2 separate regions of the Homo sapiens genome follow, and region 1 is linked to region 2. Evidence: fine-mapped expression QTL. A gene starts in region 2. The other region holds a variant in brackets. All regions are shown on one strand. Distances are from middle to middle. Region 1 holds the start of LINC02611 (long intergenic non-protein coding RNA 2611). Region 2 holds the start of CRACDL (CRACD like).

Region 1 (11,752 bases), 170 kb after region 2:
GCTGGTGAGCACAGGGAGGTGCTGGGATGGTGGCGCATCCAGAGAGAGCCTGGACACTCCGCAACAGTCACCCCGATGCCTTGCCCAGGGCAGTCCTTCTCTGCTGCCCCTGAGTTACATCCTAATCATAAACCAGTATGTGTAAGTAAAATGTTTTCCTGAGTTCTGTGAGCTGTTCTAAACCTGAGGAGCAGTTTGTGGGAACCACCAGTTTGTAGTCCATTGGTCAGACGTCTGGGAGGCCTAGGCCTTGCAACTGGCCTCTGAAGTGGGGGCAGCCTTGCAGGACAGAGCTCTTAACCTGTAGGACCTGAGGCTGATGGATGGTGTCAAAACTGAATTGAATCGTAGGACAACCAGTTGGTGTCGGGAGAGCTGGAGAACTGGTTAGTGTGAGGTAAAAACCCACACACTTGGTGTCAGAAGTTAGAACAGAAATGATTCAAAGTCCCTGTGTCAGTGAATGCTTTGTCTCCGCCTGGATGCCTGTGCCAGGCACCTGGGAATCACCACACACCCTCCACATTCGGTGCGTGCCCTTGTCTGTGGGTTCCGCTCCACAAGCCACCACAAATGTATCCAGGTCTGTGCACCTCTGCTCTCACCAGCCTGGCCCCAGCCTGGCCCCAGCCCAGCCTCCCTGAGCCACTGCAGCAGTCTCCCAGAGGCTCAAAAGTGGTGCTTAAGACTTGCATTTGAGAAAGATGGGTTTTGGATAAATGTGGAGGATGGACTGGGGGCCAGTGAGAAGGGGACAAGGGATAGTTTCAGCAACCCGTTCCTTCATGTGTTCACTGAAGTCATGATGCACCGTGAGGGCCTGCTGTGGGCCAAAGCCTGGGAGGGGACTGGGGATAGAGAATGGAGTGTCACCCACAGAGAGAAGAGGTTCATTGGGCGGGGAGACGGCTGAAGTTGCCAAGAGAGAGCTCAAAGGGAGGCAGGGCTGAGGCCAGAAACCCTAAGGGATGGATCAAGGAGAGGAATTGAGGAAGGACAGAGAGCAGGAGCATATGGACAGAGGAGAGGCAGAAGCCGGGCTCTGCAGGGCTGTGGAAGCTGGAGGAGTAGGTTGTCCCAGAGTCCCGTACCCCTGGGGATCCAGGAAGGTAAGAGGGAAGTCAGCAACAAGGAGGTGGGAGAGGTTCCTCGGCATGTGGGGCGGAAGCCAGACTGTGGTGATTGAGAAATGTGTAGGGGTGGAAAAGTGGCTGCAAGGCACGACCACAGGCGGGAGAGCCGACTGTGAAATCTGCAGGAATTTTCTGAGCCAGGCGCCAAACACAGCCAGTGTTAAAAATTAAATGATGAAAACTTACAGTTAAATAGGTTACATAGAGACAAAGCAATAAATACTGAAAACTCATCTCTTCCTAGTTTGTTACCTTCTACCAATAGCTATTCCCCTGAGATAATGTCCATCCATTGTGTCCCTGTGGTGAGAATGCTATATGTGAGTGATTACTCACGTCTATGCATCTCTTCCAACTCTGCGTGTCGTGTTATCTCACTGGTGGCTTGAAATTGGCTGTGATGGGAGTATTTACACCACAGAAACCAGCAAATTCCTCAAATCAGACCTTTTTATTCCCAGAGAGTCAGTTGTGAAACGTTTACCAGCACCACTGGAGGAGTGAGATCAGAGCACTTTCAGTAAGAGAGCAGTGGCACGTTAGCAAATGGAAGGGAGAAAAAGACAGCAGCAAACGTGGACAGGTTTGCGGGCTTTGTGGCAGGGAAGTGAGCGCGTTGCCTCTGATGACTTTCATTTCTCTCAGTTACACTGAGGTGAGGCCAACTGCTCTGTGTGTGGAAGCCAGAGAAGAAAGCAGCACAGAACAGATGCAAACCAAGGAGGCTGGAAGATAAGAGCAGAGCCATCAGGACACGAGCCCCTCGCGGGTATGAAACAGGAGTCGTGGGAGCAAATTAGTAGGTGCACTGCATGGAGGGACGGAAGGGGCAGGGAGGAGCATCTGAATGTAAGATTTCAGAGAAGCTCATTTTGTCAGCATTTCAGAGCTTCCTGTGTGCAGCATGGATCTAAAGCTGGTGGATGCAGGGGGGTGAACAAGACAACATCTTCACTTCCTGCATGCTGATGGCAGAAGTGAGACATCAGCGAAGAAACATCACGATCACCAAATTACGATGAACACCATGGAGGAAACAAAGGACACTGTGACACCAAGGAAGGAAGGGAGGTTACTTTTCATAGTGGCTGTAAATAGAACTGAAGGCTGAAAAACAGCTGTTAAAATGGCTTGTTTGTTTGAAGATGAATGAGAGTACACAATAAAAGGTAATTCTCCCTCCCATCCCCAATGCCAGCTTCCCTGTTTCTCTCCCCAGAAGCAGCCATGGTTCATCACATCCATTTCCAGAGGTATCCTAGGAGCAAGCTGTATGAGGAACCGGGGAAAGAGGAGCATGTGCAAAGGCCCTGGGGTGGAAAGGGCCTGCTGTGCTCTGAGCTGCAGCAGAGCTTCTCAAGCCTTAATTTGCATTTGAATCACCCAGGGATCTTGCTGAAATCCTGATTCCTGATTCAGTAGGTCTGGAGAGGGCTTGAGATTTCTAACAAGCTCCAGGTAATGCTGAGGTGCCTGATCCAGATCTCACTTAGAGTATTAAATAAAGTCCTAGGGGATCGTTAGAGATCAATCCAGCCAGAAATGTCATAGGAGAGGGAAGAACAGGTCAAGACAGGGCTGCACAGACAGGTGGGGCGGCTCAGTCGGGGTCTCTGTGCAGTAAGAAGCGTGGGTGTTATTCTAAGTGCGACAGGAACTCACTGAAAAGCTTTGTGCAGACTGGGGTTGGGAGTGGCGTTACATGATCTACTTATTCTTTCTAAATCACTCTATCTGCTGGTTGGGCAGGCAAAGTGACAGTGGGAGATCCACTGGGAGGCTACTGCACAAATCTCAGCCAGAGGTGACAGTGACAGGACCCATGTGATGACCGGGAAGATGGACGGAAGTGGGCAGACCCCAGGGGTATTTTTTTTTTTTTTTTTTTGAGACGGAGTCTTGCTCTGTCACCCAGGCTGGAGTGCGGTGGCGCGATCCTGGCTCACTGCAAGCTCCGCCTCCCAGGTTCACATCATTCTCCTGCCTCAGCCTCCTGAGTAGCTGGGACTACAGGCGCCCACCACCACGCCCGGCTAATTTCGTGTGTGTGTGTGTGTGTGTGTGTGTGTGTGTGTGTGTGTGTGTGTTTGGTAGAGATGGGGTTTCACCGTGTTAGCCAGGATGGTCTCGATCTCCTGACCTCATGATCCGCCCACCTCGGCCTCCCAGAGTGCTGGGATGACAGGCGTGAGCCACCGCGCCCGGCCCCTAGGGGTATTTTTAAGGTGGAACCGAAAGAACTCATGGATGGGTTGGATATGGGGAGTGAGGGAAAAGGAAGCATCAAGGACGCCTCTTGGGGTTGTGTCTTGAGCAAGCGAGCAGCCTGGGCCAGCATTTACTGAGGCGGAGGGAGGAGCAGGGAGATTGAGAAGCCTGCACGTCACCAAGCAGAGATGTCAAGAAGACCTCGGGGCGGGGGTGGGGGGGGGGGGCGGGGGGCAGGGGCGTGGGCATGTGTGAGGCTGGGGCTCCGAGGAAGGTCTTGGCGTGGAATATAAGTTGGGAGTTGTCAGTAGAGGCATTTTCCAAGGCTATGAGAATGTGCTGTAGAGAAGAGCAGGAGCTCTAGGATGAACCCTGATGGGCATGATCCCTAGGGATTGGGTAGAAGAACAAGCGACCAGAGGGGCGCGGAGGGAGGCTGCAGGCGGCTTTGCCAGCAGGATTTGAAATGAGGAGATTTTATCAGGGCTAACTCAAAGGGTTTGCATTTCACCTTTTGCCCCCTCTTGCATAAATGGCGTCATTTGAAAAGAGAAGAGACGGGAAGGAGGGGGAGTCAGGAACGCGGGCGAAGCGCATCTGCCTGGTTCTGGTGAGACCAGCCCGGCAACTGTCAAGTCATCCCTGCTTAATAACACCTGCTGGAAGGACAAAGGAAAGAGCTGCTGGCACCGAGTCACATGTCCACACAAACCACAGAGCGGGCCGTAGATGCCAAGCCCTTCCCCTTCCCACCCTGTACCTGTTCTTCATGTTAATCTATTACTCTAATAATTTATTCATTGTGTAGCAAATGATCATTTTCCTATCATTTGTTTATTACTATTTTTACTTTCATTATCACGTTAGATTTTCACACATGGGAGCATATGGGGGACATATTTGTTTATTAGTTTATAACCTAAAATGAATATTTTATACAGGAACATTTTAAACAGAGGCAGAAAAACCCTTAACCCAATTTTATCTTATGCTAAAATTTCATTATCACCAATTCTCAGGCCTCCAAGCACTGTGCAAACAATCCTCGAGGAATGGGTGTTATCAATTATTAATAACTATTAAATTAGCATGGAGTTTGATTTTCCCCTAAGTATGTTTCATAACTGCAGAGCAGAGAAAGAGCCTCTGCTCCCTTCCGGGTCTCCTGTTCAAATAAACCTGAACCTGGCCCAGGCACCCAGGCATCTTGGAGTGGCCAGCAGTGAGCCCACGGCTGTGCCTCTGCCCTGCAGGGCACCCGGGGCCTGGAAATCCTCCGGGGTGGAAGGATGAACCCTTCTCCCGGGGAATTTCTGGCAGGTGCATGTGATCTTGATATTCTCTGCAAGTGGCAGAAGGAGCTTGTCCCCCTCACCATCTGTTACGGGCTGAATTCTGTCCCTCCAAGATTCAAATGTTGAAACCCTAACCTCCAGACATCCACAATGTGACTGCATTTGGAAATAGGGCCTTTAAAGGTGACTAAATTAAAATGGACTGGTCCTTACTTCAATATGACTGCTCTCCTTATAGGAAAAAAATTTGGACACAGACACACACAGAGGGATGACCACGTGGAGATGCAGGGAGAGGATAGCAGCTACAGGCCAGGGCGAGAGGCCTCAGAGGAAACCAGTCCTGCTGACTCTTTGAACTCGGACTTCCAGCCTCCAGAACTGTGAGAAAATAAATTTCTGTTTTAAGTCATGTGGTCTGTGGTATTTGCTTTGGCAGCCAACACAAACTAACATGCCATCTGCACCCTTCCCTCCCACCGTGTCTGATGCCCTTAGGAACCACTGTCTTCCTTTATCCCAGGATGTCTGCAAGGAAGAAAATGTCCTTTTTCTAGCATTTAGAGGCCACCAACATTGAATAACCACACTGGGGTAGACACAGCGGCGAAGAGATTCCTGCTGTTCCCATCACAGCAGCCTTGGAGATGAGAAGACAGATGGATCTGACCAGAGTGAGTCCCAGCCCGACCTTCTCCCACACACTCTACACATCAGCTATCAAGACTGAGCCAGCCTTGTGAGGGCAGAGTGGGAGGGAGATGAGGCCCAAGGTTCTTAGAATTCACCTGGCCTCATCAGGACCTTCAAGATCTTCCTCTCTTCTCTGCTACCAAAACTGTGTGAGGGGGAAAAAAAGCCAGGGTAAGATTGGAAATTCAGCCACCCACATCCTTGCAGTGACTAACAGCTGTTAAGAGACATTTTATTTGTGTTTTGTTTTGTGACAGAGTCTCCCTCTGTCACCCAGGCTGGAGTGCAGTGGTGCAATCTCAGCTCACTGCAACCTCTGCCTCCTGGCTTTAAGTAATTCTCCTGCCTCTGCCTCCCGAGTAGCTGAGATTACAGGGGCCCGCCACCACACCCTGTTAATTTTTGTATTTTTTAGTAGAGACGGGGTTTCACCATGTTGGCCAGGCTGGTCTCAAACTCCCGACCTCAGGTGATCTTCCTACCTTGGCCTCCCAAAGTTCTGGGATTACAGGTGTGAGCCACTGTGCCCAGCTAAGGGACATTTTAATAAACCCCAAACTGCAAACAGCCTTAAGCTAAAAAATGGTATTCTGAGCATGTATTCTCAGATAGGAAGGTTTAGAAGAGCCCAGCGAAGCTGGCTTAGTGCCCTTCAAGTCACCCCAAAAGAGCTAGCTGCCTGACTGAAGCCAGAGCCTGCCCTCCTTTTAATGTGTACAGCATCTCACGGACTGCCCTGTTTACAGCACCTCTTACGGTTAGATGTGGCCACCACAAGGATGCTCTGCTGTGTTCATGGACAGCATAGCCATGGGGGGGACACGGGCTCTGGGGTCAGATTTGTTTCTGTTTGTGTCTCAGATCTGCGACTTAATATGTGTGACCTCAGCGAGTTACTTATTCCTCC[T/C]GTGCCTCAGTTTCCTCATATGCAAAGTGGGATAATAATGGCAACTCCCACATAGGGTTTGCTGAGGATTAAATGAGTGAGTACACGACTGTAGCACGATGTAGGAGTGTTTAATGGCATTATCGTCATGATTAGCTGTGTGGGCCTTGGCTTCCCATCTGTAGCATAGAGCTACCAATACCTACCTATGGCATATTGTTACTTTGGGGATTAAACGAGACGCTGAATGACAAGCACATGGCATATAGGTGCAAGTGTTTGTTCCTTTCCTGCTTCTACCATTTTTTTTCCCGAGACAGAGTCTTGCTCTGCCGCCCAGGCTGGAGTGCAGTGGCTTGATCTCAGCTCACTGCAACCTCCACCTCCCGGGTGCAAGCAATTCTCCTACCTCAGCCTCCTGAGTAGCTGGGATTACAGGCGCCAGCCACCACATCTGGCTAATTTTTGTATTTTTGGTAGAGACGAGGTTTCACCATGTTGGCCAGGCTGGTCTCAAGCTCCTGACTTTGTGATCCACCTGCCTCAGCCTCCCAAAGTGCTGGGATTATAGGCATAAACTATCGCGCCCAGCCTGCCCCTTCTACTATTTTAAGGAACACTGGTGATTCAGTTAACATCTCATCTGGCAGGAACATTCATTGATACCAACATCCTCAACATCTAACCGAGTTGAGTAACCAGAATAACTACCTCCAGGGTCATGCTCTGAGGATTCCAGCTTTATCTGTAGTGAAACTTTCTCTGACAGCCTGCTGATTTCCCCTTCCCAGATACAAAGTCCTTTTGATCACTTACTATGAGTCAGACACGTTCTGAGCTTTATCTCCTTTAATCCTCACCATAACACCATGAGGTAGATATCATCATCCCTGTTTTATAGATGAGAAAAGTTGAGCGTAAAAAGGTTAAAAAAAACTCCAACACTTTGGGAGGCCGAGGTGAGTGGATCACCTGAGGTCAGGAATTCGAGACCAGCCTGGCCAACACGGTGAAACCCCGTCTCTACTAAAAATACAAAAAAATTAGCCATGCGTGGTGCTGGGAGCCTGTAATCCCAGCTACTCGGGAGGCTGAGGCGGGAGAATTGCTTGAACCTGGGAGGCGGAGGTTGCAGTGAGCCAAGGTTGCACCATTGCACTTCAGCCTGGGCAACAAGAGCAAAACTTCGTCTCCAAAAAAAAAAAAAAAAGGTTGAAGAAACTTGTCCAAGGTCACATTGCTGGTGCAGGTCACACCCCTGTCATAAAACCAGGGGATTTCCGACTCCCAAGCCCAGCCTTGAACCTCTGTGGTTTCCAGAACCAGAGCTGATGGGGAGCAGCTGATACCATAGAAGCTGTCACAGGCAGGCATGGGGACAGGAAGGAGAGCAGACGGTGGAGTAGCAGAGTGTCCCAAGCTAGTCCAGGAGGGGCAAAGGATCCTATGGAGACAAAGAGGGACTGATCATCATTTTGAGCCAGGCCCACCCACTGTCCTCCCTTCCTCATCCTTGTTCAGGTGCTGTCTCTTTCTGTTTTCCGAACATTGCCAACAACTTTGTTTAAAAACGGGCTTTATTGTGATGTATTTCACACACCGTACGATTCACCCATTTACAGTGTACCACGGAGTCGTTTTTTAATATATTCATGGTTGTGTATCCACCACTACAATCAGCAGTGCATTATCATTGCCCCAGATGTCATTAGAACACCATCATTACCCCACACTAGCCACTGTGCCCCAGTACCCCCAGCCCCAGGCAGCCACTAATCTACTTTCTGTCTTTGCAGACTTGCCTATTCTGGACATTTCATATAAATGGAATGATACAAATGTATGGTCCTTTGGGACTGATGTCTTTCACTTAGCACAATGTTTTCAAGGCCTAGTTTTAAAGTAAATTTAAAAATGGTTAAAGGTCAATGTGTAGTGCTTGGCACAAAGTAGAGAGGCTCAGTAAATTCTTATTGAATTGAAATACAATTTTTTTTTTTTTTTTTTTGAGATGGTGCTTCACTCTGTCACCCAGGCTGGAGTGCAGTGGTGCAATCTTGGCTCACTGCAGGCTCGACCTCCCGCATTCAAGCGATTCTCCTGCCTCGGTCTCTTGAGTGGCTGGGATTACAGGCGTGCACCACCATGCCCAGCTAATTTTTGTATTCTTAGTGGTGACGGGGTTTCACCATGTTGGCAGGGCTGGTCTCGAATTCCTGACCTCAAGTGATCCGCCTGCTTTGGCCTCCCAAAGTGCTGGGATTACAGGCTGAAATAGAATTTCCGATCATAAGTAATTGACCCGAGTCATCAATAAAAGGCTACATTATATTTGTCACATTCTTTTTTTTTTTGAGACAGGATTTCACTTTGATATGCAGACTATAGTATAGTGGTGCCAACTTGGCTCACTGCAGCCTCAACCCCCTGGGCTCAAGCAATCCTCCTGCTTCAGCCCCCCAAGTAGCTGGGACCACAGGTGTGTACCATCTTGCCTGGCTAATTTTTGTATTTTTTGTAGAGACAGAGTTTCACCATGTTGCCCAGGCTGGTCTCAACCTCCTGAGCTCAAGGGATCTGCCTGCCTTGGCCTCTCAAAGTTTTGGAATTACAGGCATGAGCCACTGCACCCATCCCATCCCATTTTTTTTTTTTGAGATGGAGTTTTGCTGTTGTTGCCCAGGCTGGAGTGCAGTGGCGCAATCTTGGCTCACTGCAACCTCCGCTTCCCAGACTCAAGCAAGTCTCCTGCCTCAGCCTCCCGAGTAGCTGGGATTATAGGCATGCGCCACCATGCCCGGCTAATTTTGTATTTTTGGTAGAGACCAGGTTTCACCATGTTGGTCAGGCCGGTCTCAAATTCTTGACCTCAGGTGATCCACCTGCCTCGGCCTCCCGAACTGCTGGGATTACAGGCATGAGCCACCACACCTGGCCCATCACATTCTTTAAAAAGCGGAGAACTGATTAACACATTCTTGAAAATGTGGAGCAAATGTTGCATGACCAAGTGTTTCTTAATCAGTTTCCTGAAATTGCAGCTGTCTTCTTTCAATTCCCATAAAAGTGCTTTAACATTTTTTATACTAATACTGTAGTTCCTCAAATTTTGACTTCTGAGCACCAATAAGGAAATGTGGAGAGAAGGGACATTGCTACACAGTTGGTAGGAATGGAAATTAGTATAACTATCATGGAAAACAGTATGGAGCTTCCTCAAAAAATTAAAAATTGAACTACCATACACATCCAAAGGAAATGAAATCAGTATATCGATTGGGGGTGCTGGCTCAGACCTGTCATCCTAGCACTTTGGGAAACTGAGGTAGGAGGATCATTTGAGTTCAGGGGTTCAAGTCCAGGGGTCTCCCTATGTTGCTCAGGCAGGTGGATCACCTGAGGTCAAGAATTTGAGACCAGCCTGACCAACATGGTGAGCAACATAGGGAGACCTCATTTCTACTAACAATTTAAAAATTAGCTGAGTTTGGTGGTGCACACCTGTGGTCTCAGCTACTCAGAAGGCTGAGGCAGGAGGATTGCCTGAACTTGGGAGGTCGAGGCTGCAGTGAGCCCTAAGCATGCCACCGCACTCCAGCCTGGATAACAGAATAAGATCCTGTTTCAAAATTTTCTTTTTGATTGATTTCTGAAAAGAAATCAGCATGGCAAAGAGTTATCTGCACTTACATGTTCACTGCAGCATTATGCACAATAGCCAAGATATAAAATCAACCTATGTGTGTATCAATGGATAAATGGATTTTTAAAATGTGGTATATAAATGCAATGAAATGCTATTCAGCCTTAGAAAACAAGGGAATCCTGTTATTTACAACAACGTGGATGAAGCTGTGGACATTTTGCTAAGTGAAATAAGCTAGGCACAGAAAGGGAAATACCACATTATTTCATTCATAAGAGAAACCTAAAAACCTCAAACTCATAACAGCAAAGTGGAATGGTGGTTAACAGGGAGTCAGGGCAGAGGTGATGGGGAATGCCTTTAATGGCCAGAGAATACCAATTTTCAGTTAGGCAGAAGTTCAAGAGGTCTATTATACAGCACGGTGTCTATAGTTAATAACAATGTATTGTATGCTTGAAATGTGCTGAGAGTAGATTGCATATGTTAATTAGTGTGATTTAGTCATTTCACAATGTAAACATATATAAAACACGTAGTACATCATAAATATATATAATTTCTATTTGTCAATTGAAAAACAGTCGTCTGGACCTGCTTCCTGTCACATAGGTCAATTTGCATCTTTTTTTTTTTTTTTTTTTTTTTTTGAGACTAGCGTCTCACTCTGCTGCCCAGGTTGGAGTGCAGTGGTGCCATCCGGGCTCACTGCAGCCTTGAACTTCTGGCCTCAGATGATCCTCTGGCCTCAGCCTCTCATGTGGCTGGGGCCATATGTACTCACCACACCACCTGGCTAATTTTTAAAGTTTTTGTAGAGCTGGGTCTCTTGTTAGTTGCCCAGGCTGACCTCAAACTCTGGGGCTCAAGCGATCCTCCTGCCTCAGCCTCCCAAAGCCCTGGGATTACTGGTGTGAGTTGCCACACCTGGCCTAATCTGTGTCTTTATCAATACTATAGGAAACGAAAAAGAAAAAACAAAGAACTAAACAAACTACCCCTTAGACTCAAATAGCCAATTACTGAAACTGAATTTGACTCGCGGATTCTGGTTACTTGTGCATATAGCCCAGGTTTCTTTGGGACCCCAGGGCTTGTCATCAAAGACAAAGTATCTAGTTGAATGGGGGAGATCATTAGGAGGCAGTGGCAAGCCCCAGAAAAGAAAGTGTCCCACCGTTGGGAGGCACATGGGGAGGCGGGTGGGAGTTCAGTCACGCCTGGCAGAGGATGTATGGAGGCAGGTCCCTCATGCCTTTAACTGCTCCACTGCTGCCTTACAACAAAGGAGAGACCTTCCAGACCCTCATCTGGCATCCTTCCCCTCTTTTCTCCTGAGCCCTGACATTCTGGCAATGCTTCGGCAACACAGAAGATAAAGCGTGGAGAGGGAGACTCAGCCACATTTTCTTACAGATGAGGGTGTGTGGCTGGAAAAGGGCCATTATCGACTCCTGTTCTCGCTTCCCCTCCTCTCTCAGAGTCTGGAGAACTTCGAGAAAAAAGGAGGAGGACACAAAAGGAAATAACAAAAAAGATGCATCCGGAGCAACTATGAGGATGGTAAATTGGTGTCTAATTCTGAAAATCATAATTGGTATAAATGCTATGTACTGTGGAAGGAGGGATGAAGGGTAGAGGGAATAAAAAAGAACATGAAGTTAGAATCCTTGGCATGAAAGCCTGCCATTTATACAAGCAAACAAACAAGATCAGGGACTATCAACTGGCTGGCTGAATTGGACCAATAGGCAGGTTTATTCAGCCCCACACTTCAAAAATTAGGAGATCTCCAAATTAAAATCTGGGAATCTGACCTTTTGTAACAAATCAGAGGATTTGCAACACCAAGAGCATCATCACAGGCAACGACCAGCTTGGATGGGCAGCG
Region 2 (11,752 bases):
TAGAGACGGGGTTTCACCATGTTGACCAGGCTGGTCTTGAACTCCTGACCTCAGGTGATCCACCTGCCTCGGCCTCCCAAAGTGCTGGGATTACAGGCATGAGACACTGCGCCTGGCCCTATGTCTTATATATTATAGGCACTAAATGAACAATGGGTGTCATGATCATATTTGCAGATTGGAAAGATCCATCTTTGTGGGTGGTGCTCTTGGAGGAAGTGGGTGCAAGCTAATCTTCCCTAAGATCTAAGCGGCAGGGAGATACTGTCTCATGTCTAGGATCAAAGATCAGTGTTACTGGTCTGGGGGTGGATATGGGGCATTGAGAGTTCATACCCATCATTAACGTTCTCCGAAGAAGAACGCAAAACCATCTGTTCAGAGGAGAACATGGTGCAGACCGGGAACACACAGTATGTGAGAGCAGTTAGGGCTACTTTTGCTGTGGGCAATGGCAAAGTGAGCTGTGCAGGAACAAAGGAAATAATGTGGCGTTTTTCAGGCCTTAGAACCTTAGACGCCTTCCCACGCTGAGACTCAGAGCCTTCAGCTCATTCATAGCCATCAGCTCAGGGATTCCTCTCTGAATATCTCCTAAGGAAATAAATTAAATATAGGCAAAATAAATGCAGACAAATTATGCATACAGATACTTTTTTTTTTTTTTTTTTTGATACGGAGTCTCGCTCTGCCACCCAGGCTGGAGTGCAGTGGCACGATCTTGGCTCACTGCAACCTCCACCTCCTGGGTTCAAGCGATTCTCCTGCCTCAGCCTCCCAAGTAGCTGGGACTACAGGCACGTGCCACCATGCCCGGCTAATTTTTGTATTTTTAGTAGAGACGGGGTTTCACTATGTTGGCCAGGCTAGTCTCAAGCTCCCGACCTCAGGTGATCCGCCTGCCTCAGCCTCCCAAAGTGCTGGGATTACAGGCGTGAGCCACTGAGTCTGCCGCATACAGATCTTGTTAAAGAATTTTGTAGAACACTCCCAAGTTGAAAACAAGACAATACAGAAATGGTTTAAAATAATAAATCATGATGTATCACATAATGAAATATTAGTTATTAAAAACTTATATTTATAAAAACTACATTATCACAAGGGAAGATACTTGTGTATAATGTAGCTGAAAAAAACAGGATACAATCTTGTGTATTTGCCTTAATCTCAACTATGTACAAGCCATTTGAGTTTGCAGGCCAGCTTGAATCCCTTTTTTGGAAAAAGAAAAACTGGAAGAAAAACAATAAAATGCCAACAGTGATTGCCTCTGCGGTTGGAATTATTGGTGATCTTTCCTTCTTTCTTATTTTATGTACCATCCTGTTTGTTTTTCAGAGAATGTTTAACCCATTTATGCTGGAGGTTGCAATTTTCTTATGTGAAAAATCAGACCTTGGCCATGACCTTCAGCAGTAGGATGTAAATAACTCCCACAAGCTTAGCATTCCAATAATGGAACACTAGGCATTAATGGGCTCAAAGTAGTAAGGCCCAAGTGTGGGTGGAGACTGTATTTTTGTGGTTTAGGTCTGCATGGTTCTGTGAATTTCCTTGGCAGCACAAAAGGGCTTGTGTAGGAAGAGAGGAGGCTGGTGTATGGTTGGGGTTTCAACCAGGAAGGTGTTGGCGGGGGTGGGGGGGGACCAAGGGATGAGGGCACTGGGGGTGCTGGTAAGAGAGCAGTCAAGGGATGACCATGAGGCCCAGGGCTAGGCAGGGTGGAGGCTGGAGAGAGATGACTAGTGAGAAATGAGCAGTTGGAGCAGAAGGTCCTTGGATGGGGGAGGAGCAGAAGTTTAGGAAACAACGGGATCAAGACTAGGGTGGAAAAAAATTGGGAAGAGAGAGTGGGTGCAGTCTCATGCATTTGAGATACAGCAGTTTCAGGGTCATAATAGGCCATGGTGAAAGTTCATTGATTAATAAATATTGATCCAGCAGCTATTGTAAACCAGCACCGTGCTAGGTGCTAGACACAGATACAGACCCTGCCCTCCTGGAGGTTGTGCTCTGGTGAGGGACTCCAGTATGGAATAAAAAATAAATCACTCCAAAGTGTAATATGTTCTCTAAAGAAGAGGAGTAGGAGGGAAATACAGGTCAGGAAAAAAAGACCAAAGGAAGTATCACTGAAGCTAAGTCCTGAAAAATTAGTGGGAGTCAGCCAGGTGAAGGGTGGGGGCAGCTGGGGCTAAGCCCTCAGGGCAGGAAGAAGCTTGGGTTGTTCACAGAACTGGAAGAAAGCCAGTGTGGCTGGAGTGGAGGGAGCAGAGGGTGGTACTGAAAGGAAGCCCAGGAGATGTGGTCCTCTTAAGGAGTCTGGGTTTCACCCTAACTGCAGGGAAGCCAGGGAAGGGTTTTGAAACAGGGAAAGGACAGGGTCCAATCCCTATTGCTGGAGAAGGATCAGAGGGATGGTGGCTAAGATCTGGGTATTGCTGGACAGCCGCCTGCAGAGAGCCCCTCAGGAGTAGGGTCCCTGTGGCCTCTGGCAGTGAGGCAGCTCAATTCGACCTCTGCCACCATGGCTCACCTGGGCAATGGGCCTGTTGAGATATTGTTTCTTCCTAATTGGTTCCTGGCTGGCCCTTGACTCCAATCCTCTCCCCAGGTAGGGATGTCTGTGCCTATGGGGCCTGTATTTTCTGAACCTAAGTGAAGACAAGCAGATTGAGTGTCTGTGAAGACCCAAAAGCAGAACCCTGGGATGAACACTGTCCTGAAAATTGTCCCCGCTACCATCCTGGGTTAGAAAGCACACTGCCTTTGACTTCACCGTCTTCACCCCATTAATTACCAGCCTCTGGTTTGACTAAGTGAAGATTCAGGACTGATGATTAGCAATGATGATGATGGTGTTGGGAATAACTGAGTGAAGAAGCAAATGTAAATATTTTAAAGTGTAAATATCAAAAGTGTAAATACTCTTGCTTTCTGAGATCCCAAAAGATGCCTTCCTCTTAGTGTGGGAAGGGTTGATATTCCTTTCTTTTCTAAACTAAAAAATATTTTCAGTTTGCAGAGGTAGACATCATTTTCAGAAAGGCAGCTTTGCCCAGCCTTAAGTGCAGATTAGGGGTTCAAACCCTGGCTCTGCCACTTACTATCTGCATGCCCTTGGGCATGGTACTTGCCCTTCTCATGCTGAGTCTCCTCGTCTACCACATGGAGATAATAGCAGCATCTCGGTTGCAAAATCAGGGTAATGGCAGGTCTTAGCTCAGAGGGTCTGCTGGCAGGTGGATAATTTAAATGAGTGACTATTTGTAAATGGCTTAGATCCGTGCCCGGTTATTTGATAAAAGCATGTTCCCAGTGAGGTGCAATATATTTAGAAGTAGCATGGTCTTCTTTCTTTTGGCTTGTCAATGAGGTTCTCCTTCTCTGAAAGGGATGTGTTCAGGGGTAGCTGAGAGATTTTCTGGAGCCTCAAAAAACAACCAACCCCATGCTCTTGGCTTTCTGGTTGTCCATGCAGACTGCAAGAAACACTATGTGGGGTCTATGTTTCTTTTGCACTTTTGACAAATCCTTACTTGAACATTTTAGTCTTTTCTTAACCTGGCTTCAAGGCTTGATCCAAAAGGCATTAAGGAGGGGAAGAGCCTCCTTGACTGCCAGCCACTTGGCAGGGCCCTGGGAACCAGAGCTCTCACAGGAAGATGAAAGTCCCAGGGGTAGGGGAGGGGCACAGTTTCTTTCCACATTTTTAAAGCATGAAGGTGCTTGCTCTACCAGGCTCCAGATAATTTTCCATTTTCCCAACCTATTCACAAAATTCCCCACCAGTTTCTATTTTGAGTGTTGACACCATGTTCTCGGCCTTAACTAATCACCAGGAACCTCGGTTTTTGTCTTCTGAAAACCTCCAGGAACTTCAAAAGCCACCCACAGAATACAAATAAAGCCAGAGGTTTAAGATATTCTGGAAACGAAATTCTTAGGTAGAAAGGCAGTTTATGGAGTCCATAAATATTTAGTAGTTACAGCGGCAAAAACTAACATGATTTTGAAGAGCAAGGAGCAGAGGCTCAAGGTGGGAGAGGAGAGAGGGGAGTATAGTTTTTGCAGTTGTTCAGTTTAGTTTGAGGATTTTGAAAAAAACAAACACACAGACACCCAACAAACTCGTTGTCTCTGATTGTCATGAGTCACCCATTCATTGTGAATGCAGGTTATTAATTTGGGGGGGGGTTATAAGGCTGAATCACTATTTTTGTTCTTTTTATACAGGGAACTTAAAGCACTTAACCATCAAAAGAGGCTTTTACGTGAATAGCTTGTGGCCAAGGGATAACATTAAAAATTCAAAAAGGAAACTTCGTTTGATATGCCCAAGTAAATGGGAAACTGTCTTGGGCCTCGTTTCGCTCGATTCTTCTATCTGGGATTTTGAGCCCCTTGAAAGCCACAGGTGGAGAGAGCTCCTTCCGGGGTCCAGGCCCTCTCGGCCTCCGACAGCCGAGCAGCTCGGCTTTTCCAGGCCTCCAGTGTGCGCGGCGCTAGCCGTCGGACCCAGCGTCCCGCGGAGTAGCGCGGATTCCGCGTGATCCCCTCCAAACAATGCGGACCTCGCCGCTCATTCTGGCGTCCGGTGACACCCGAGACTCCCCGTCTGACGTTAGTATCATCTCTTCCAGCCTGGGTTGAAGGCGTCCCCTGAGGACTCGTCGCAGCCTGGGCTCCCTGCTGGGACGCGACTCCCGCGCCTCTCGCCTGCCTGGCCCTGGGCGTGCACCGCCGGGGAAGAGGCCGGGACGGGGTCGCCGGGCTGTGCCATCCGCAGACCAAAGCCGCGGCTCGGGCTCCGGAGGAGATTCGCTGGGCGACCACCCAAGGCAGCTCCCTCCGTGCGCGGTCTCCCTAAATGGACCAGCCCTGTCTTTACAAGAAAAAGGATTTTAAAAAAAGAAGAAAGAAAGAAAATAAAGAAAGGCGAGCGCAGCTGAGACGGCATCAGCTGCCTTTCTTCCCACACTCGCCGGTGTCACACCCATGAATCACCTCCAGACGGGGCGGCAGCTTCCCTAATTAGCCTGGAGACGCTCAGGACCCACAGGGTTATAAAACAACAACAATAACAAACTTTTACTTTTATTCAAATGCACACTTCCTTCCCTCGGCGCCCACGCCCGCCGCAGGCCACTGACTTAGAGGGCGGATCCGGAGGTCACCTGGAGTCCCGGGTCCCTCTCACCGACGCGCGCGGGTGCCCTGGGCCAGTCCCGGACTGACTTGCCACCACCTCCGGGTCTCCGGTGCCCCCCGGCCCTCCCGGAGCCCCGACAGCGCCGCTGCGCGGACAGGCCGAGGCGGGTCGGGAGCGGCGCGGGCTTGGGAGGGAGCGCTGGGCAGCCGGGCCCGCACCCCGATTGCCCTCCCCGCACCCCGATCGCCCTCCCGCCTCCCGCGGGGCGTCCAAGGCCCAGGCCGGCGCCTGCGCCCCCCGCCCCGAGGTCTCGGCCCCACTCCGCCGGGCCAGCTGCGGAGGCGGCGTTGGGAGCTGTGCGCCGCGGGGGAGGTGCGCGCGGCGGCCGGCGAGGGGAGCTGAGCGGCGTCCGCCCCCGCCGAGCCGAGCGGAGCCGAGCGAAGCCGGCGCGCCTGCAGCTGGGAGCTGGGAGCTGGGAGCGCGCCGGGCGCAGGGCCGGGCCGGCCGCGGGAGGGTAGTGTCAGCGCCCGCGTCCAGCTCTTCGGCCGCAGACCCGGGCTGTCTGGAGGCCGCGCGGCCACCTGCTGCGTCGCCCCGGCTTTGGGCTGGGGCTAGACGCGCACCGCGGCGGGAGCAGCCCCGGCTCGCCGCACCCCGCGGAAGGTGCCCTTCTCTGCGCGTCTCGCCGAGCCCGGGCCACGCTCCTGTCCCAGGTACCTCGAGGGGTTTGAAATCGCGTGTCCCAAGGCAGGCGTGGGTCGAAGGCGGGGTGGGCGCGGGGGCACCGGGCGGAGGTGGGGCGGGCCGGGGCTAGGGGGTCGAGGGCAGAGGCCGTGAAGCCAGGGGCCCCTCGGACCCGGAGAGGCGCCACCCCCGCCGCCGAAGCCCTGGGCAGCTCCTGCGGCCGAGGGGGAGCCGGACGCGCTCGTGCAAGTGCCCAAAGTTTCCCTTTGCTCACTTTGCTGGACCCAACTTTCCACTGTGAGGCAAATCCAGCAGTTTACGCGCCAGGAAAATGAAAGAGGAGGGAGAGAAGGTCCTGCTCGGTTGAAATTGCTAGCATACGAGGTCTTTATGCCCACTGTCTCCACACGCAGTTGCAGGGGAAAGGAGTGGACACATTCACGAACTGCCTTATGCTTTAGGTGATGGTTTATTTAACAGGTTTTAGGCTTTGATTACACGCCACCCGGGAGGGATTCTGGAGTTGATCTAAGAAGTGTTCACATTTTTAATCAACAAATATTTGTTGAACAGAAGCTTCATCATAGGCAAAGATTCGGTATGAAGTTCACATGTGATCAGAGCATAATAGTCACTTGCTTTTGAAATGCAAGTCAGAAGCAGTGCGGCTGTGTGAATTTGACTCCGTGTAGGTGCAAACCGCCTGCAGGCATCAGGTCCTGTTGACAGTTTTGAGCCAGGAAATCCAAGTGGAAGACAGGCAGCTGTGTTACCCTTTTAGAGCCAGCTCACACCTTCCCAAACTGGTCTTAAGGTATCCTACTAGGTTATTGGAGCCTGCAGGCTTCCTTCATTTGCATATACCATAGACTAGAATCTGTGTAGACCCCTGGTATTTTCCCTGGAGCTCGGTCCCACGGGCGCACACCTGGAATGATGGAGCACTGTGGTCATCCTAAGAACCTATTGAGGTTATAAAATTGTGAGGAGAAAGATATCTAGAGACAGTGTCGTGTGGAGCTGGTGGAGAAGGTTGAGCTGGGCTGGTTTCTGGGCTCTGCCCCTATGCTGTGCCATCTTGGAGTCTGAGGCAACAGGAAAAATCAGGAACACTGATCCTGTCTTTATTTAAAAATGTGAGATTTTGTACATTAGGGATTTTTGTATTTGTTTTGATGTTTTAAAATATTGTAATAAGGCATTTATCTGACTGCATTTTTGGTACCCCCTTAAATTTTGTGCCTGTAGTGAGTACCTGGCTTGCCTGAGTCTGATTCTGGACCTCCTCCACGAGTCAAGTTCTTACTCTCTAAGCATCTGTTTCCTCACTTATAAAATAAAGTGTACCATCCATGGATGCTGCGCAGCTCAGCTGCTGCATAGGATGCGTCATGTGGGGCTCACTAACGGGTGGCTGTCCTGCTGAGATCACTGCTCTGCTTGGCCCTCTTAGGCTAGTTAAGATGAATCTTGGCTGGGCGCGATGGCTCACACTTGTAATCCCAGCACTTTGGGAGGCCGAGGCAGGTGGATTGCCTGAGGTCAGGAGTTCGTGACCAGTCTGGCCAACGTGGTGAAGCCCTGACTCTACTAAAAATACAAAACAAAAATAGCCAGGTGTGGCGCCTGTAATCCAGCTACTCGGGAGGCCGAGGCAGGGGAATTGCTTGAACCAGGGACGTAGAGGTTGCAGTGAGCTGAGATGGCACCACTGCACTCCAGCCTGGGCAGCAGAGTGAGGCTCAGTCTCAAAAAAAAAAAAAAAAAAAAAGGATGAATCTTGACCAATCTCAGTGCACCATTCAGGGAAATGAGAGCAGTGATAGTGCTATGGTTTGAATGTTTGTGTCCCCCCAAAAATTCATATGTGGATTCCTAATCCTCAAGGTGATGGTATTAAGAGATGAGGCCTTTGGGAAGTGATAGGTCATGAATGGGCTTGGTGCCCTTATAAAAGAAGCGCAAGGAGCTCGCTCGTCCCTTCCACCATGTGAGGACACTGTGAGGAGGCGCCTTCTATGAGGAATGGGCCCCCACCAGACACCCAACCTGCCAGTGCCTTGATCTTGGACTTCCAGCCTCTGGAACTGCAAGGAATAAATGTCTGTTGTCTATGAGCTGCCCGGTTTATGGTATTTTGTTATAGCAGCTGAAATGGACTCAGCTGGCCAGCCCTCAGGGATGCTCTTGGTTAAATGAGAGAATAGATGTGAAGGTACCAGGCCTCCAGGAGGGTGGGTTTTCTGTGATGTCCTGGTGGGCCTGGATTTGACTTAGCTACCTTGCAGTCACTGGCTCTTCCCCTGCAGGCTGGCTCCGTGCCTTGTCATGCAGTTGCTTGTTGTGCACATAAATACTGCTTGTGTTGCAGGTGGACTCTCTGGGTGGAAACCTGCCCAGGGTTTATTGTGGAAAGGTGCAAAATTTTGTGTAAGTGAGCTTGATTTTGCTGTCCCTAGTGAAGTCCCTTGGTTCCCTTTTTCATATACTCAGTTCCCAGTGCATGGTTCTGTTTTTCTAGAGCCTAATTCAATGGTATTATTTCAGTCACTATTTAGCTTAAAGGTAGCTTCGTCCCTGGTGGGAGTCAGTCTCTCAGTCTTTCCACGTTACTCCTCGGGGACCCCTTTTCGCTACAAGTCACCCCTGGGCACCAGGAGAGGGTTGTAGTCCCATCAGAGCTTGAGGGGAGTGGCCCTGACTGGTCATCTGGTCCTCTTGCGGTGCCCCAGTGAGTCCCTTTCCCCTCCACATGGAGCCTCCGGCTCACATTTCCATCATTGTCCAGCTGGTGTCCCCAGGGTGAGCCACAGCGGGGACCTGGCTCTTCCATTGGCCCAGAGGTCCCCATGCTCTGAGGTCTCTTCTGGGCCCCTATTGGGCACCTGGGAGCCCGCCCAGGTTGTGCGGAACCGTACTAGGCCTCCATTTCTACTGTTCTGAGCTCGGCCTTCCCTGAGTTCCCACAGGAAGCAGGACAAGAACGCCCCCTCAGCCCCACCCCTGCTCCTCCAGGTGGGGTGCACAGCGGTAGGTGCTCAGTGCCTGGGTTCATGTCCCAGACCCAGAAGGCATTTTTCTACCTGTGGGGCAGGGCTGTTTCTTAGGTTCTGTCTTCTGTCCTCTGCACATCATGGCTTTGGGGAGAGCTCTAGGCTCCAGCTTCCAGGCTTTGCCCTTGATACATAAAAGGAAGTTTAAAATATCTCTGTATTCACCACTGTCTTGGGTAAAGTGTGCTAGGCCTTTTTATTACCTGAAAAAGACTGGGAGAGCCGTCGGGGCTGCTGGAGACTTCAGTCAGGGCTGGGAGAAGGCAAGGAAGGAGTAGCTGGCAGCGGCGTTGCGGGGATTGAATGGCTTTCTGCGTACACAGCCCGGCCCACTGTCATGGGGATGGGCGTCTTCCAAACCACCGTTCCTATTTATGCTGTTGCTGCCTCATCATCAGAGCAACCCCCTGTGTGCTTGGCACTCACTACAAGCCGGAAAGGTCCGAGTCATAATTGCTGCTTCTGGTGAATAAGATGAGCCCTTGTCAAGCCTGTACCTGCAAGCCTGAGCCCTGGATTTAGTTCACACTCAGTTCACACTGGATTTGGAAGGGGAGGTAATCAGGGGAAGCTTCTTGGAGGAGGTGGAACTTAAAGTAACAACTTGGCCACATGGATGTGAGATGCAAGAGAACTGCCTTTGAAAGGGAGACAGGCCGGCCCGGCCTGGTGTTCACAGGCCCACCTGTGGCTTGATGCTGGCTGGTGTCCCGCCGATCTCTTCTGTTGTCTAGATACCTGCAAACACCGGTACTGCTGGTGTCACCTGTGGGTAGGACAACACAGACAGCCAGCGTTCAAAATCCTTCTGTTTTCCCCAAACTGAACGGAAATCAGGAGAATTCTCATCAAATAATGCTCTTTCTAGATCTCTGTGTCTGGAAAATAACTTCAAAACTTTAGGTCAGATTAAGAGTCCTTAAGACACATTTATGATTTTGACAAATTACCTTGAAGATATTTGTATTGCTTTTAAGGGGGTCTAACCCATAATCCTGAGCCAAGTGGATAATGAACTAGAGATGCTGTTTCTGTCGGTGCCCAGTGAATTTAGCAGTGAAATGATGGGAAATGATAAGACAGGCATGTGATGTAACAGGGCACCTCCTGAGCAGCGTCAGCCACCAGCTTTTCACAGGCTCAGATACCATTCTGGAGGAGACTGCTGGTAGGAAGGATTCTCAGACATTTTTCTTATGATCTGGGTATCTGTGAAAGGAAATTATGGAAGTTCGTTTTGAAAAGTGCAGATGGAAAGGTATTTATTTGCTCAGGCCTTCTCCTGGCTGTGGTGTGTGGGGCTGGTTTTTAACTGTGTGTAGCTGAAGAACTTCCAGAAATATTTGCCTTAACCTCTGAGGTCCATACACCAGTCTCTCCATGGTTTCTGCCCTCAAATTCTCATGTCTGTGGGAAGCACCAGAACCATTAGCTGCGGGGTGTGCAGTTTCCAAGAAACTACTCTCGGAAACACTGCCCCATATGTGGGAGGAGAAAATGTCAGAGAGGTTGCCTTCTTTTTAAAGCAGTTGGTCCAGTCAAGGTCAGGGGAGTCAGGCTCTAGTGTCTTTTTTTTTTTTTTTTTTTTTGAGATGGAGTCTTGCTCTGTCGCCCAGGCTGGAGTGCAGTGGCGCGATCTCTGCTCACTGCAACCTCTGCCTCCTGGGTTCAAGGGATTCTCTTGCCTCAGCCTCCTGAGTAGCTGGGATTACAGGTGCCTGTCACCACACCTGGCAAATTTTTGTATTTTTAGTAGAGACGAGGTTTCTCCATGTTAGCCAGGCTGGTCTCGATCTCCTGACCTCAAGTGATCCACCCACCATGGCCTCCCGAAGTGCTGGGATTACAGGCGTAAGCCACCATGCCCAGCCCAGGCTCTGGTTTCTGCTGTGCCACTTAGAAGTCCTGCAACCTCAGTCACCCCTTAGATGGGGTGGGGGGGTGGTAGACACACACACACACACACACACATACATGAGCATTACATGAGGTGCTGTATGACAAACATAGAAAATGCTCCATAAATTATTTATAGGTATTACTCTCTTATTGTCTTTCTTGTAAGACGGTTAAAGGGCATTTGTTATAACTACCAGTTAGGACCCCTACTAATAATGTTCCCTAAAGCAATAAAGGGTCCTTCCATAACTGAGATCTGATGGCATTTAAGGAAAATGAGCATAACTGCCATACACAGTGCTCCTGAGCACAGCTGCTGGTGGAAGCTGTCATGTGGGGAACAACCTTGACGCAATTTAGAACACACAGGGAGAAGCGAGGGGACGGAAGAGGGGTAGGTGACACAGGACAGGGGTGGGACAGAGATGGGGTAGGTGATATAGGTAGGATAGGGTGGGGTCAGAGATGCAGTAGGGGACACAGGACAGAGGGTGGGGATGGGGATGGAGTAGGGGACACAGGACAGAGGGTGGGGACGGGGATGGGGTAGGGGACACGGTACAGAGGGTGGGGACGGGGATGGGGTAGGGGACACGGTACAGAGGGTGGGGACGGGGATGGGGTAGGGGACACGGTACAGAGGGTGGGGACGGGGATGGGGTAGGGGACACGGTACAGAGGGTGGGGATGGGGATGGGGTAGGGGACACGGTACAGAGGGTGGGGACGGAGATGTGGTAGCTGGAAAGCATCCGTGTGTCCTGTCTTGCTCTGCAGCATCCGCCTTCCCCACTAATGTGTGAGGAGAAGGACCTGACTTGAAGCACTTGCATGGGGGCCACGGATGGGAGGTGCCCTGGGCCAAGACATACGCCCCGTCGTGTTGGAGAGACACAGGGATGGTTCTGCCCTGCCACGTCTGGGCTCACTAGTGAGTGTGTTGAACAGCCTTGGATTCAGAG

What was found. PIP is the estimated chance that this variant, and not a neighbour inherited with it, causes the effect.
Region 1: its variant is fine-mapped to the expression of CRACDL in whole blood (TOPMed, PIP above 0.99).

Annotation. Positions count from the first base shown.
Region 1 is chr2:98,762,169-98,773,920 of GRCh38, reverse strand. It overlaps LINC02611 (long intergenic non-protein coding RNA 2611), which reads left to right and starts at 2,023. Exons shown (of 4, transcript NR_126337.1): 1 at 2,023-2,302; 2 at 4,875-5,019; 3 at 5,135-5,310; 4 at 11,343-11,752. RefSeq lists enhancers at 1-43, 44-544, 2,681-3,181, 3,182-3,682. The variant T/C (reference allele first, on the strand shown) is at 6,237.
Region 2 is chr2:98,930,054-98,941,805 of GRCh38, reverse strand. It overlaps CRACDL (CRACD like), which reads left to right and starts at 5,581. Exons shown (of 10, transcript NM_207362.3): 1 at 5,581-5,868. RefSeq lists a silencer at 6,214-6,414.